Homo sapiens: one gene and its partner. The protein of the gene in region 2 interacts with the protein of the main gene of each other region in a biochemical or structural test. Each region holds a gene or a part of one and is shown on either strand. Other genes may lie near its edges.

What was found.
Region 1: of the proteins of RELB (region 2) and MALT1, one has a biochemical effect on the other in vitro, tested with the Homo sapiens proteins (2 studies listed by BioGRID).

The regions. Positions count from the first base shown.
Region 1 is NC_000018.10:58,674,255-58,681,530, forward strand, and holds part of MALT1 (mucosa-associated lymphoid tissue lymphoma translocation protein 1), read left to right. Parts: intron 1-3,355; exon of another isoform or gene 3,356-3,392; intron 3,393-6,217; exon of another isoform or gene 6,218-6,322; intron 6,323-6,915; coding exon 6,916-7,082; intron 7,083-7,276. UniProt on the Homo sapiens protein: Protease that enhances BCL10-induced activation: acts via formation of CBM complexes that channel adaptive and innate immune signaling downstream of CARD domain-containing proteins (CARD9, CARD11 and CARD14) to activate NF-kappa-B and MAP kinase p38 pathways which stimulate expression of genes encoding pro-inflammatory cytokines and chemokines.
Region 2 is NC_000019.10:44,997,619-45,004,737, forward strand, and holds the start of RELB (transcription factor RelB), read left to right. Parts: upstream 1-3,845; 5' UTR 3,846-3,961; coding exon 3,962-4,067; intron 4,068-5,330; coding exon 5,331-5,378; intron 5,379-7,119.

The DNA of each region.
Region 1 (7,276 bases), on a different chromosome or scaffold from region 2:
GTTAAAGGCTACAAAATGGTCTTAGCTTTGTTTGGGGGAACTAAAGGAAATATTTGAGGCCACTTTTCTGTGGAGTCACACAGAGAGAAGGGGACAGTTGCCTAACAAGAGGTGGCAAGCACAAAGGGCATGCAGTTGTGGAATCTGAGAATTTGGGGTGGGAAGTCTGATGAGAGGCAGATGAGTTTCACCTGTCTTTCAAGATGGTAAAGATTAGTTTTGAGGAGGTTGGCTGGGGTGAGAAGGGTTGGAGAATTTGGGAACGTTAAGCTCATCCCTATGGAGATCAGAAGAATTAAACGGACTTTTTTTCAAAAAACAGCACTGGGAGCTTGGGGGCTGGACAGTGAAGCAAGGTCAGCTGGGGATGCTTACTCTATTTAAGACAAAAAAGTTATTGTAAAGTGATTTCATGCTGTTGGGAGAAGATCTGTGATACTAGAAGGTCCTAAAGGTATTTTTTCTCTGGTGCCAAAGACAGGAATTATAGTGTGAGTGTCTAGTCCGTGTGGGTGACAAGTCCCACGAGGCTGTGAAGTGCTTTCTTCAGTCACTGGATCTGCAGCCCTAGAATCTCGAAATGTTGCCCATTCTGTTTCTTTTTCTTCTCTTCACTTTTTTTTCTGACACTTTACATCTTTCCTCAAACTGGGTGAAAATTTAATAATACAAATAAGTAAACCACAAGAAAAGAGCCCGTTCAAACTGTCTACAAGAGATTAGAAATAATTGTAAATGTTTTCATTGCTGATGACTCAGAGTAAATCCTTGTTGATAGCTTAGTTCCCCACAACCATGTACATTTGGGAATGTGCTATAGTCAGACCCGGCCCTGATTCCATTCAAGACTGACCTGGACACCCTTTGCTGTTAGTGTAGATAGACACAGACTCTGAGGGTCTTGCCCAAGCTATGTAAATTCTTTGGTGGCATGGAACATCTGAGCCCTAAGGATGGCAGACCTTCCAGGAGGTTCTAAATGCTGCCTAAAATTCTGTTAAGTAGGGAGCTTAGAAATGGGGCTGTGGAACCTGGACCATGGAAAAACAGTCATTGCATACCTGCTGAGTAGAAGGTGCACTTTTAGCTGCAGAAATCCTGCTTTCATGCAGTTTATTATAGGAATGAGAACGTGTAAAAGGCTCTAACAGAAGGTTTCCTCCCAGCCTGGGAAACATACTGAGACCCTGTTTCTACAAAAAAACAAAAAATTAGCCAGGCATAGTGGCACAGGCCTGTAGTCCCAGCTACTCTGCAGGCTGAGGTGGGATTGCTTGAGCCCAGGAGTTCGAGGCTGCAGTGAGCCTCAACAATTATTATTGAAATTCATTCAGTAATCATTCATTTATGAATAATTAATATGGACAAGACAGAATTTTATTGATTTAGGTATTGTCAACCTCCAGCATGGTCGACAGAGAAGACCTTGTCTCTAAAACAAATAAACTAAAAAAGGTTTCCTTCTCGCCCTCTTGGTCTTATCCTTCAGTCCCATGACTTTACATTTATTTGGGTTGATTACTCCTAATTTCTATTTCCAGCCCATTTCTCTGCTTTGAACTCCTAGATTCACGTATGTAAACACTTGTTTGCCATCTTCTCTTGAATGACTAAGACACGTCTTAAATATAACATGTCCAAAATTTAACACGTCTTCCCTTATAAACCTCTTTCTTTCAGTTTCTGCACCCTCTGGTTGTTCAGTCCAAAAACTTCGAATTCATTCCTGACTCCACTTTTACACACAAATCGTTTTTGTCAGCCCATCCTTCCTGCTGTACCTTCACTATATATATGTAGAATCCAATGTCCACTGCTGGCACGCTGGGCCAAGCCACGTTGTCTCTCAACTAGATTATTCCAGTAGCCACTTAACTTCTCCCTGTTTTGCTTTGCTCCCACCCCAGTCTGTTACCAATATAGCAGTAAGAATTATTCTTTTAAAACATCACATCAGGTCTTATTCCTCCTCTGCTCAAAACTCTCCTATTGTGGCCAGGCGTGGTAGCCTCACACCTGTAATCCCAGCACTTTGGGAGGCCAGGGTGGGAGGATTACTTATGCCTAGGACTTCAAAACCAGCCTGAGCAACATAGATAGACCCCATTAAAAAAAAATGCCAACTCTCCTATTGTTTTTCCATCTCAGAGTAAAAACACCATTAGCTACCAGTTCACTCTTCAACCTGATATCTTCTTGTCTCCATCCCTCTCTACTCTGGTCACATGTGCTTTCTTGCCTTCCTTTGGACACAGTAGTCTTTGTACTTGCTGCCTACTCAGGCTGAGATGGTCTCCACAGGTAACCACATGACTTGTTCACCTCACTGAGCTCTTCTCTGATCATAATATTTAAAATTACCCTCTACATCTGCTCAGTGTTACCTGTCTACTTGCGTTACCTCCACAACACTTAAGACCATTGGTTAGTTGGATACATACACAAAAAGATATCTCTGTGTTTATTTAAATTTATGTCTGTACTTCTCTAGAATGAAAGATCCAGGAAGATACAGAATTTTGTTTTGTTTGCTGCTGTATCCTCAACACCTAGAAAAAACAGTGGCCTATTTTAGGTGATGGAGAAATAGATCAAATTAATGAATAAAGATTCCAAATAGTAAATGTACCAAGAGGAGAAGCAGAAGAACCTAAAAACAGCATTATGGTTTGTCCCCTAAAGGGTGTATAATACATTCTATTTGATTATATATTTTTTTAAAGATAAAAATAGAGATATTTTTAAAAAGTAAAGTACATTTGTTTCAGTCATAAAGCAGTTTTTAAATTAAATCAAAAATTCTAAATTAGGACTTTCAGAAACTACTTCAAAGCACACTCTTACAGGAATGTAACTTAAAAAGGAAAGAAAGAAAAGTTAGGTATGTATAAGCATCATCTTAGCTGAAAGCCAGTGCCCATACGGAAAATCAGTAAAAACAAAAAGAGATACAGAGTCTTCTTTTTCTCCTGTGCCTCTTGTAATGGAAGAGAAATCATCTGTACTTCAATTTGATCTTTGTTCTTTTGGGGGGGAAGGAAAGCCAAGTGTTTTTAATTTTCTCTATATCAATATAGACATTAATTAAAGCATCACTTGGTTGCATTTGATGAGATGGCTTCTTAATTTCATTTATCAGATCCTGGTAAACTTCTGAATCATAAAAATTATATTTAGCATACAGCATCCCTATTTTTACAAATCTCATTCTAATTATTTACAAAATTAGTAATCCTTGTATTGTTTCTAATACAGGTTCTTTCACTTGGGTATTTCAGAAACTAGTAAAATAAAATTTCACAAAATAAGAGCACTAACAGGCAGCTTCACCTTTTTATGTTTTCTGTCATCATAGTCACCATTGTTTCTTAAAAGAAAGAACACTTTAACACCTAAAAATGGAAAAGACAATTTTAGAATAAAAGACAGCTTTATTGTCCTTATTTTTATCATTTTACCTTGGACTGCAGATTGTGCTGCCACTGGTCTACAGTCCAGAATTTGAGACTGGTTGACTTGTGATATGATGATTCACATTTAACAAGAATGGCATATTGAATATAATAAAATTGAACTAGGATGCTTAGAAAAGAATACCTAGTAAATATAGTGATCACAGGAGGCCTTAGAGGACATTTTCAGGTTACCAAAATAATAGTTACTCAAAAAAATGTTTAAGGAAAAGCTAAAATTGTTTCAGAAATAAGCATAGTTAAGAAGTTAGCTTTAATATTCTTTTAATATCCCCATATTCTTATTGCATAATAAGAGCTAACCTTTATTGAATGTCTGTTACTTGCCAAGCACTGTGTTAAGCACTTCTTACATGGATTAGCTATTTAATTCTAACAACCCTATGAGGTAGATAATATTACTAATGAAATTAATTTGATCGTATACATTTTTTCCATATGAAATAATCAACATTATCACTGAATTTTAAATCTTGGGTAACAGTATAAATGCTATGACAGCATCTTCATAAGACTACTCAAAATGAATGAGGATTAATATTTCAAGCAATAAAATAGTTTGCTAACCTTGATTCTGTCACACCCTGGCACTATTATGTTTCACCTCTTGCATCTGTTCAGGCTTTCAGCCTTGACAATTATGATTGAAATTCATTCAGTAATCATTCATTAATGCATAATTAATATGGACAAGACAGAATTTTAGGTATTGAGGGATTTTATGTCTGCGTGTGTGTGTGTATACACACACATATATGTTTAATATGATGGGGTTTCTGTTTTCAAGGAGTTTACTATAATCTAGTTGGATAAGGCAGCTTTTCTTCATGCTCATGAAGAAAAGCTCACCGTTCTAAGGTGAAATTATGTGAGATAAAACATGAAACAAGTCTGCACATGACTGCTTAAGGCCCAAATCCAGGCTGCTACCCGTTTCATATAGCCCATGATCTAAGACTGGTTTTTGTATTTTACGAATTGTAAAACAAAAAACAACAAAGAAGAATGTGTGATAGAGACTCTATGGCCCAGAATATCTAAAATATATCCTTGCTGGCCACTTAGAAAAACAGTTGTCTATAAAATAAGTGCAGTTAGGAGACTGTGTCTATAAAGTGTGTTTGGTGGACTGGTGTGGTCTAGGAGGACCTTGTAGAGAAGCTAGAGTTAATATGGGACTGTAATTCAAATTGGCAGGAAAAGGAGCAGGATCTGCAAAGATGGATGAGGTGTGAATTCTACAGTATATCATGCAGATTATCTAAACACTTTGGTTGGCTGTTGTTGGTTATGTTTCTTTGGGAAAGTTTTTCTGTCGTTGATTGCTCGGTTTTTTCTTGATTCTTTTGTCTCCCCTTGAATGTTTAATACTTGTACTTTCCCCTTCTATAAAATGATTACAATTCATATCATTGTTCCATTCTTCATGGCCTTCTATGATCTGATCTTAACCTGTCTTTCTAATCTGGTATACCACTACTGCACACAATAACATGGAAAAGGAAATTGTATATGTATGTTAAATACTGGTATTTTTAAAAGAATAGTTTTAATAAAAGGACAATAAGACATTCTTTAAAGGAAGGGTTAGCAAACTATTTCCATAGAGGGCCCAATGGTAAATATTTTTGGCTTTGCAGCCAGGTATTCAGCTCTGCAGTTGTATCAGGAGAGCTGCCATAGACATTTGTGAATATGTGAATGAATGAGTGTAGCTGTGCTCCAGTGAAACTTTATTTACAGAAATCAGGTAGCTGAACACATTTGGCCCACAGGCCATGGTCCCTGCAATAGGATATTTCTAGGTACTTAGAAGTACTTTGGTTTTTTTCTTTCTTTTTTTTAAGACCGAGTCTCGATCTGTCGCCCAAGCTGGAGTGCAGTGGCATGATCTCAGCTCACTGCAATCTCCGCCTCCTGGGTTCAAGCGATTCTTGTGCCTCCTGAGTAGCTGGGACTACAGGCGTGCACCACCACACACCGGCTAACTTTTGTATTTTTAGTAGAGATGGGGCTTCACCATGTTGGCCAGGCTGGTCTCAAACTCCTGGCTTGATGAGATCCGCGTGCCTTGGCCTCCCACAGTGCTGGGATTACGGGTGTGAGCCACCGTGCCCAGCCTAAGTACTTTGAATGTCAATAGTACTGGTTCTCTTTCTAAATATACTTTTTAAAAATTATCAAAAGAGCCAGGAGTGGTGGCTCCAGCTCTTTGGGAGGCAGAGGCAGGATTATTGCTTGAGCCCAGGAGTTTGAAACCAGCCTGGGCAACATAGCAAGACAGCATCTCTATTAAAAAAAAATTATCAAAAAATAAATGCACATAAAAAAATCAACAGTACAAAAGGGGTTATAGTGAAAAGTAGATCATCCAGCCATGAGCTCTACTGTCTTACCCTCTGTGAGGCAACTATGGCTACGAGTTTCTTAGATACCTTTTCAGAGTTTACTCTCCATGTATAAGAACACACACAAATGATCTTGGTAATAACAAACGCTGTTCTGTATCTTCCTTTTTTCATATGAATACACACATAGACATACTACCTTGTTAATACAAATAGTAGTGTATTATACACAGTTTTTTATGTTAATTCCTTCATTTCTCAGTATGTCTTAAAGACCTATGCCTTTACCTCAGGCTCAGTTTTTTTAATGAATTAACAGTATTTCATTTGATATACATGCCATAATTTATTTAAACTAGTAATTAAGGATATTTTTAGTATTTTTCAATTGCTAACCTTGTAACACTGATTGTTCTATCCGCTTCATTTGGGGTCATTTTGTATTTCATCATCTTTGAAGAAGGAGTAAGGAAATTTTTCTGGCCTTCCTATTCCCCATTCCTAAATTAAAGGCAAAAAAACCTTTGTCAGTATCAAGGCTCAATTTCTCTCACATCCTGTTTCTGGGTTTCTCATTCTCCTGATTTAATAATCATGGGACACTTGGGGAGGCCGAGGCAGGTGGATCATGAGGTCAGGAGATCGAGACCATCCTGGCTAACAAGGTGAAACCCCGTCTCTACTAAAAATACAAAAAATTAGCCGGGCGCGGTGGCGGGCGCCTGTAGTCCCAGCTACTCGGGAGGCTGAGGCAGGAGAATGGCGTGAACCCGGGAAGCGGAGCTTGCAGTGAGCCGAGATTGCGCCACTGCAGTCCGCAGTCCGGCCTGGGCGACAGAGCGAGACTCCGTCTCAAAAAAAAAAAAAAAAAAAAAAAAAATAATCATGGGAGCTGAGTGGGAGAAGGGAATAAAGAGGAATTCCCCGTGATGAAAGAGGAGGAAAGGATACTCGCATTCATTATGTGAATAGTTTGTCACCACCCACCCACTCACTTGTGATTTATTCCATACAGCACCACCGTGGTCCAGATATATAGCAGGTGTATCATGTGGAAGAAAGCTGTTGACTTGAATTCTTTCTGTTGCTTTCAGTTGCCTAGACCTGGAGCAGTGTTCTCTTAAGGTACTGGAGCCTGAAGGAAGCCCCAGCCTGTGTCTGCTGAAGTTAATGGGTGAAAAAGGTTGCACAGTCACAGAATTGAGTGATTTCCTGCAGGCTATGGAACACACTGAAGTTCTTCAGCTTCTCAGCCCCCCAGGTAGGTTTTGTTCTTAGGATTATTCTCCAGGAGTTCATGGAGCCAAACTTAGAAGAAATTATCTCTTTTGACCAGGTGAACTGTGTTAAGTATTTTTGGAAAATGTAAATGTGTAGTGCCTTGTTTGCTTTCCCAGGTTGAAGCAAATGCAATGCATGAATATTGGTTGGATTGTGGTTGAAGAAACCAGCTAC
Region 2 (7,119 bases):
CAGCAAACTTTTTTTTTTTTTTTTTTTTTTTGAGACAGTCTCACTCTGTCACCTAGGCTGGAGTGCAGTGGCGTGATCTCAGCTCACTGCAGCCTCCACTTCCTGGGTTCAAGTGATCGTCCTGCCTCAGCCTCCCTAGTAGCTGGGACTACAGGCACATGCCACCACACCCAGTTAGTTTTGTATTTTTAGTAGAGACGGGGTTTCACCACGTTGGCCAGGCTGGTCTTGAACTCCTGACCTCAGGTGATCCGCCTGCCTTGGCCTCCCAAAGTGCTGGGATTACAGGCATGAGCCACTGCACCCAGCCTCAACAAACATTTTTGAGGCCTGGCATTGGCAAGAGGCAGAGAGGAATCAGGAGAGCTTCTGGTCCTATAACAATTGGAGCTGCTATTTGTCATCCTTATCATAAGCCAAGCACTAGTGTAAGTGCTGCATGTGGTTGGCTTCATCCATTACATTTAATATTATTCAGTGTCCTCGTCACCTTACTGGTCCATCACTCTGCCCTCATCTCTACCCCTTTCCTGTCAGTCACTCTGCACCAGCCTTCTTGCTATTCCTTAAGCATGCCATGCATGTTCCTACCACAGGGCCTTTGCACGTGCTAGCCCCTGTGCTTTGAACACTCTCCCCCAGATATCCACATGAATCCCTCACCTCCTTTGACTCCCTGTTCAAATGGCACCTCTCAGACCCTGATCTTCCTAACCCAAACTATCTTCCGAACTCCTTCTCGTTATCCTGCTCTATCCTGTAATACTGCCATCACCATCAGACATAATATTTGCTTATCTGTTTTCCATCTGTCTCCTCACTTGGATTTCCTTGATGGCAAGGGCTTTTTGTCTGCTGTGTGCCTTGCTATGTCCCTAGCTTTTAGAGCAGTGCCTGACACTGTTACGCTGTGTGTAATAACTGTAAATTGAAGAGCCAGGCACAGTGGCTCACGCCTGTAATCCCAGCGCTTTGGGAGGTTCGGGCAGAAGGATCACTTGAGGCTAGGAGGTCAAGATCAGCCTGGGCAACAGCAAAATCCCATGTCTTAAATAAAAGAAAGAAGACCGGGTGTGGTGGCTCACGCCTGTAATCCCAGCACTTTGGGAGGCCAAGGCAGGCGGATCACGAGGTCAGGAGATTGAGACCATCCTGGCTAACACGGTGAAACCCTGTCTCTACTAAAACTACAAAAAATTAGCCAGGCATGGTGGCGGGCGCCTGTAGTCCCAGCTACTCGGGAGGCTGAGGAGCAGAATGGCGTGAACCCGGGAGTAGGAGCTTGCAGTGAGCCGAGATCGCGCCACTGCACTCCAGCCTGGGTGGCAGAGGAAGACTCCATCTCAACAAAAAAAAAAAAAGAAAGAAATAGGGCTGGGCACAGTGGCTCACGACTGTAATCCCAGCACTTTGGGAGGCCAAGACAGGCGGATCACCTGAGGTCAGGAGTTCAAGACCAGCCTGGACAACATGGTGAAACCCCATCTCTACTAAAAAAAAAAAAAAAAAAAGAAAGAAAGAAATGTAGTCCCAGCACTTTGGGAGGCTGAGGTAGGCAGCTCGCTTGAATCCAGGAGTTTGAGACCAGCTTGGGCAACATGGTGAAACCTCATCTCTGCTAAAAACACAAAAATTAGGCCAGGCATGGTGGCGCACACCTGTGGTCCCAGCTCACCAGCTGTGTGGCCTCAGGCAACTGACTTCATCTCTCTGAGCTTCAGTTTCCCGTCTGTAAAGTGGGTCTAATAATAGGACGGTCATGAGTATTAAATAAAATGATGTTAATAGTTAGTTGCCCTTTGGCCAGGTGCACTGGCTCAGCCTAAGCAACAGATCCTCTCTCTACAAAAATAGAAAACAGGCTGGGCGCAGTGGCTCATGCCTGTAGTCCCAGCTACTTGGGAAGCTGAGGCAGGAGAATCGCTTGAACCCGGGAGGCAGAGATTGCAGTGAGCTGAGATCGCACCACTGCACTGCAGCCTGGGTGACAGAGCGAGACTCCATCTCTCAAAAAAAAAAAGAAAGAAAAGAAAAGAAAACATTAGCCGGATGCGGTGGTGTGTGCCTGTAGTCCCAGCTACTCTGGAGGCTGAGGTGAGAGGATCCCCTTAGTCCAGGAGGTTGAGGCTGTGGTGAACCATGTTCCTGCCACTGCACTCCAACCTCGGTGACAGAGTGACACCCTGCCTCAAAAAAAAAAAAAAAGTTCACATTTGTATATAGCACCCACATGTGCCAGGCCCTGTTCTAAGAATTTTGTGTTTTAAATATTTGTGTCTATTAATTTGTGTGACCTTGGAGAAATTAATTTTGCCGGGTTTCAGTTTTCTCATCTGCTATGTGGGGATCAATAACACCATATACTTCACACAATTGTTGTGAACATTCAACTTACAGAGTTATTTCTTTTTCTTTTTGAGACAAGGTCTCACTCTGTCACCCAGGCTGGAGTGCAATAGCGTCATCACAGCTCACTGCAGCCTCAACCTCCCAGGCTCAAGCAATCCTCCTGCCTCGGCCTCCCAAAGTATTGGGGTTACAGGTGTGAGCCACCGTGCCTAGCCAGAACACCCAAATTTTATACAAGCAAAGGAAAGACAACAAACCCTGCATCTGTGGTCTGAGAGCGCCTGGCATCCAACTTAGAACCTAATAGATCACCTAGTCGTTCTCAGGAATATGAGAGGCTTAGGAATGTGATCTAGCCAAATGGCTGCCCCTCTTTCAGCCTGAGTCCCTTCTGCAATAATCCTATCATATGCTTCTGGCGCTGGTGATAGGGATGAGCTCAGGGTTTAGGCACACAGCTCAGGATGTATACGGAGGCTACACTGCTGCCATTCGCAGACTGAATAACTGAGCTTTTGAGCTCAAAGTGGTCTGGGCTATTTATGGGTAACTTTCAGGGGCTGCAGGGAGGAACAAACCAATAAATAAAACATCCATGCATTCATCCAATAAACTTTTTTTTTTTTGAGATGGGAGTCTCGCTCTGTTGCCCAGGCTGGAGTGCAGTGGCACGATCTCAGCTCACTGCAACCTCCGCCTCCCAGGTTCAAGCTATTCTCCTGCCTCAGCCTCCGGAGTAGCTGGCATTACAGGCGCACACCAACACGCCCAGCTAATTTTTGTATTTTTAGTAGAGATGGGATTTCACCATGTCGGTCAGGCTGGTCTCGAAATCCTGACCTCGTGATGTGCCTGCCTCGGCCTCCCAAAGTGCTGAGATTACAGGCATGAACCACCGCGCCCGGCCTCCAATAAACATTTATTGGGCACCTACGGTGTTCCAGGCGCTGGTCTAGGCGTTGGGGTTACAACAACGCACAAAACATAAATTCTGAAGCTGACACGCTAGCTTTAAACGTTCCTTAAATATCTTCATCCTCAATTTACGGTTGAGGAAACTGAGGTGTAGCGAGACCTTGGAGGTTTCCGAAATATTATTATGGATGGCAGGTGTAGAGCCCTGCCAACCTCTCGATCCTGAAGCTCCCCTTCCAGCCTGAGAAACGGCAGGTTCAAGTCCCACTGGGAGACCAAAGCGGGGAGCGGCTCAGTTTGCCGGCTTGCTCAATGGGTAAGGCGTGATGGCTCTAAGCAGGCCTCAGTTGTCTCGTCCAGAGCAATGGGCAGCGACGCCTGCCCAACCCCTCCTGAGCGCCCAGCCTCCCTTTCCCGGCCGGCCCCGCCCCCGCGATCACGTGACGCGTGGGGGTTTTCCCGTTCCCCAGGCGTGACGTCACGGCGGGGTGCAGACCAATGGGCGCGCAGGCCGGCGGCGCCGGGGAATTCCGCCGCCCCGCCCCCGCCCGCCGCCCGCCCGGCCCGGCCCCGCGCCCCGCGCAGCCCCGGGCGCCGCGCGTCCTGCCCGGCCTGCGGCCCCAGCCCTTGCGCCGCTCGTCCGACCCGCGATCGTCCACCAGACCGTGCCTCCCGGCCGCCCGGCCGGCCCGCGTGCATGCTTCGGTCTGGGCCAGCCTCTGGGCCGTCCGTCCCCACTGGCCGGGCCATGCCGAGTCGCCGCGTCGCCAGACCGCCGGCTGCGCCGGAGCTGGGGGCCTTAGGTAAGCGGGGCTGGGGTTCAGGAGAGGGGTCTGGGGCGGGGCTGGAGATGCGGGGATTCTGGCGGTCCCGGAGTAGTCTGGGGGTTCCTATGGGAGTCTAAGGGTTTCGCGGGGGCAGAGTGAGGGTTCCTGAGACACTGTATTAGGGCGTAGGAAGAAGGCAGAGGGTGATGAGGGGGTACGGCCCGAGGTTCGAGCGAGGCGTCCCGCTGTAGAGTGAGAGGGGGCGGGGCCTGACCCTGAGGCAAAGAAGGGGGCGTGGCCTGACTCAGAGAAGGCGGAGCGAAAGCTGCTCTTGGGCGGTATCGGGGCGGGGCCGGGCCCAGAGAGGGAGAAGAGGGGCGGGATCCGACCCGGACTATGAGAAGAGGGCCGGGCCTGACTCAAAAAAGGAAGCAGGGCCCTACGCTGAGGGGTGAGGGGGCGGGGCCTGGCCGTGAGGGCAGGAAGGGGGCGGGGCCTGAGTTGGCCGAAAGAAGGGGAAGGGGCGGGGCCTGACTCTGGCCGAGTGGAGGGGAAGGGCCTGTTACCCAAAAAAGCAGGGCGGGGCCCGACACAGAGAATGAGGAGGGGGTGGGGCTTGCCTCCAGACGGAGAAGCGGAGCCTTGACATTGAAAAAATTAAAAGTGGTCTGACCCTGACAGGAGGATGTTTTTTTTTGTTTGTTTTTTGTTTTTTTCTTTTGAGATGGAGTCTCGCTCTGTCGCCCAGGCTGGAGTGCAGTGGCACGATCTAGGCTCACTGCAACCTCTGCCTCCCGGGCTCAAGCAGTTCTCCTGCCTCAGCCCCCCGAGTAGCTGGAATTACAGGTGCCCGCCACCACACCCGGCTAATTTTTGTAGTTTTACTAGAGACGGGGTTTCACCATGCTGGTCAGACTGGCCTCGAACTTCTGACCTCAGGTGATCCGCACGCCTCGGCCTCTCAAAGTGCTGGGATTACAGGTGTGAGCCCTTGTGCCCAGCGGGATGGGGACTTTTTAAACTGAGATTGAGATGGGGTCCCCTCCAGGCCCAACTTTAAGGGAGAAAAGGAGCGGGCCCTGAGTGTGATGAAGGGTGGGGCGAACCACAGAAACTAAAGGCCAGGACCTGTCCATGATTTAGCTGGTAAGCCTGGCCAGACGCAGGGGGGCAGTCAGGGCGAGGGGCCTGATCCAGAGGGGAAGGGCTAGAAGAGGAAGGGGTGGGGCTTCCTTGGGATATTCTCTGGTCCTCTGGCTGCCCCCCATCACCTCCTGAGACGTTTCTCCTTCTCTGCAGGGTCCCCCGACCTCTCCTCACTCTCGCTCGCCGTTTCCAGGAGCACAGGTGAGCAGCCCTCCACAGTTCCTGCCCACTCGCTCATGCAGGATGAGGTTGGGAGGACTCCACAGAGATGTCTCTGTTTGGGGGTTCACGAGGTCCACCTCAGCTTTCTCCTGACAGGGTGCATCCCTCCCTGCCAGTTGAGATGGGCCCCCTAGGTTTTCTTACCTCTTGGACTGTTAAGAGCGTGACAGGTGGCCGGGCGCGGTGGCTCACGCCTGTAGTCCCAGCACTTTGGGAGGCCGAGGCGGACGGATCACGAGGTCAGGAGATCGAGACCATCCTGGCTAACACGGTGAAACCCCGTCTCTACTGAAAATACAAAAACAAAATTAGCCGGGCGTGGTGGCGGGCTCCTGTAGTCCCAGCTACTCGGGAGGCTGAGGCAGGAGAATGGCGTGAACCTGGGAGGCGGAGCTTGCAGTGAGCCGAGATCGCACCACTGCACTCCAGCCTGGGAGACAGAGCGAGACTCCGACTCAAAAAAAAAAAAAAAAAAAAAAAAAGCGTGACAGGTAAATCTTACCACCTATCCATGCGCAAAGGCTTCTTTAGAGATTCACTGTGGCTTAGTAGAAGGTAATCACTGCCATCCTGGGCTTTGGAGCTGGGGTTTACATACTGCTGTCATCGCCCCTCCCTGTGTGAATGTCTGCAAGTCAGTTCCCCAGTTCAGGCCTCAGTTTTCCTCATCTGTAAGATGGACAGAATAACAGTGCCTCTCTTTCAGGGAAATTGAGAGTATTCAATGAATTGATACAGGTACACTTTCCAAGCAGTATCTGGCACACAGTAAGGGTTCAGTAAGTGTTAACTGTTAGTGGTATAATAATAATAACGATAATAATTATTATTACTAGACAGTCTATAACAGTGGTTCATTTTTGGTGTGTGTGTGGGTTTTTTTTGTCTGTTTTTTGTGTTTTTTTTTTTTTTTTTTTTTTTTTTGAGACAGAGTCTCGCTGTGTCACCCAGGCTGGAGTACATTGATGCGATTTTGACTCACTGCAATCTCCACCTCCCGGGTTCAGCAATTCTCCTGCCTCAGCCTCCTGAGTAGCTGGGATTACAGGCACCCGCCACCACAACCCACTTTGTGTCTTTAGTAGAGATGGGGTTTCACCATGTTGGCCAGGCTGGTCTTGAACTCCTGACCTCAGGTAATCCGCCCGCCTCAGCCTCCCAAAGTGCTGGGATTACAGGTGTGAGCCACCTCGCCTGGCCAGACAGTGGTTCTTTTTTTTTTGAGACGGAGTTTCATTCCTGTTGCCCAGGCTGGAGTACAATGGCGCGATCTCGGCTCACTGCAACCTCCACCTCTCAGGTTCGAGCAATTCTCCTGCCTCAGCCTCCCAAGTAGCTGGGATTACAGTCATGTGCCACCACGCTCAGCTAATTTTTTGTATTTTTAGTAGAGACAGGGTTTCTCCATGTTGGTCAGGCTGGTCTCGAACTCCTGACCTCAAAGGATCCGCCCTCCTCGGCCTCCCAAAGTGCTGGGATTACAGGCGCGAGCCACCGTGCCTGGCCAGACAGTGGTTCTTAAACCATGTGCATCAGAATCATCCATAGCGCTAGTTAAAACATAATGTCGCCTGATGTGGTGGCTCATGCCTGTAATCCCGGCACTTTGGGAGGCCGAGGTAGGCTCATCACCTGAGGTCGGGAGTTCTAGACCAGGCTGACCAACATGGAGAAACACCATCTCTACTAAAAATACAAAATTAGCTGGGCGTGGTGGCGC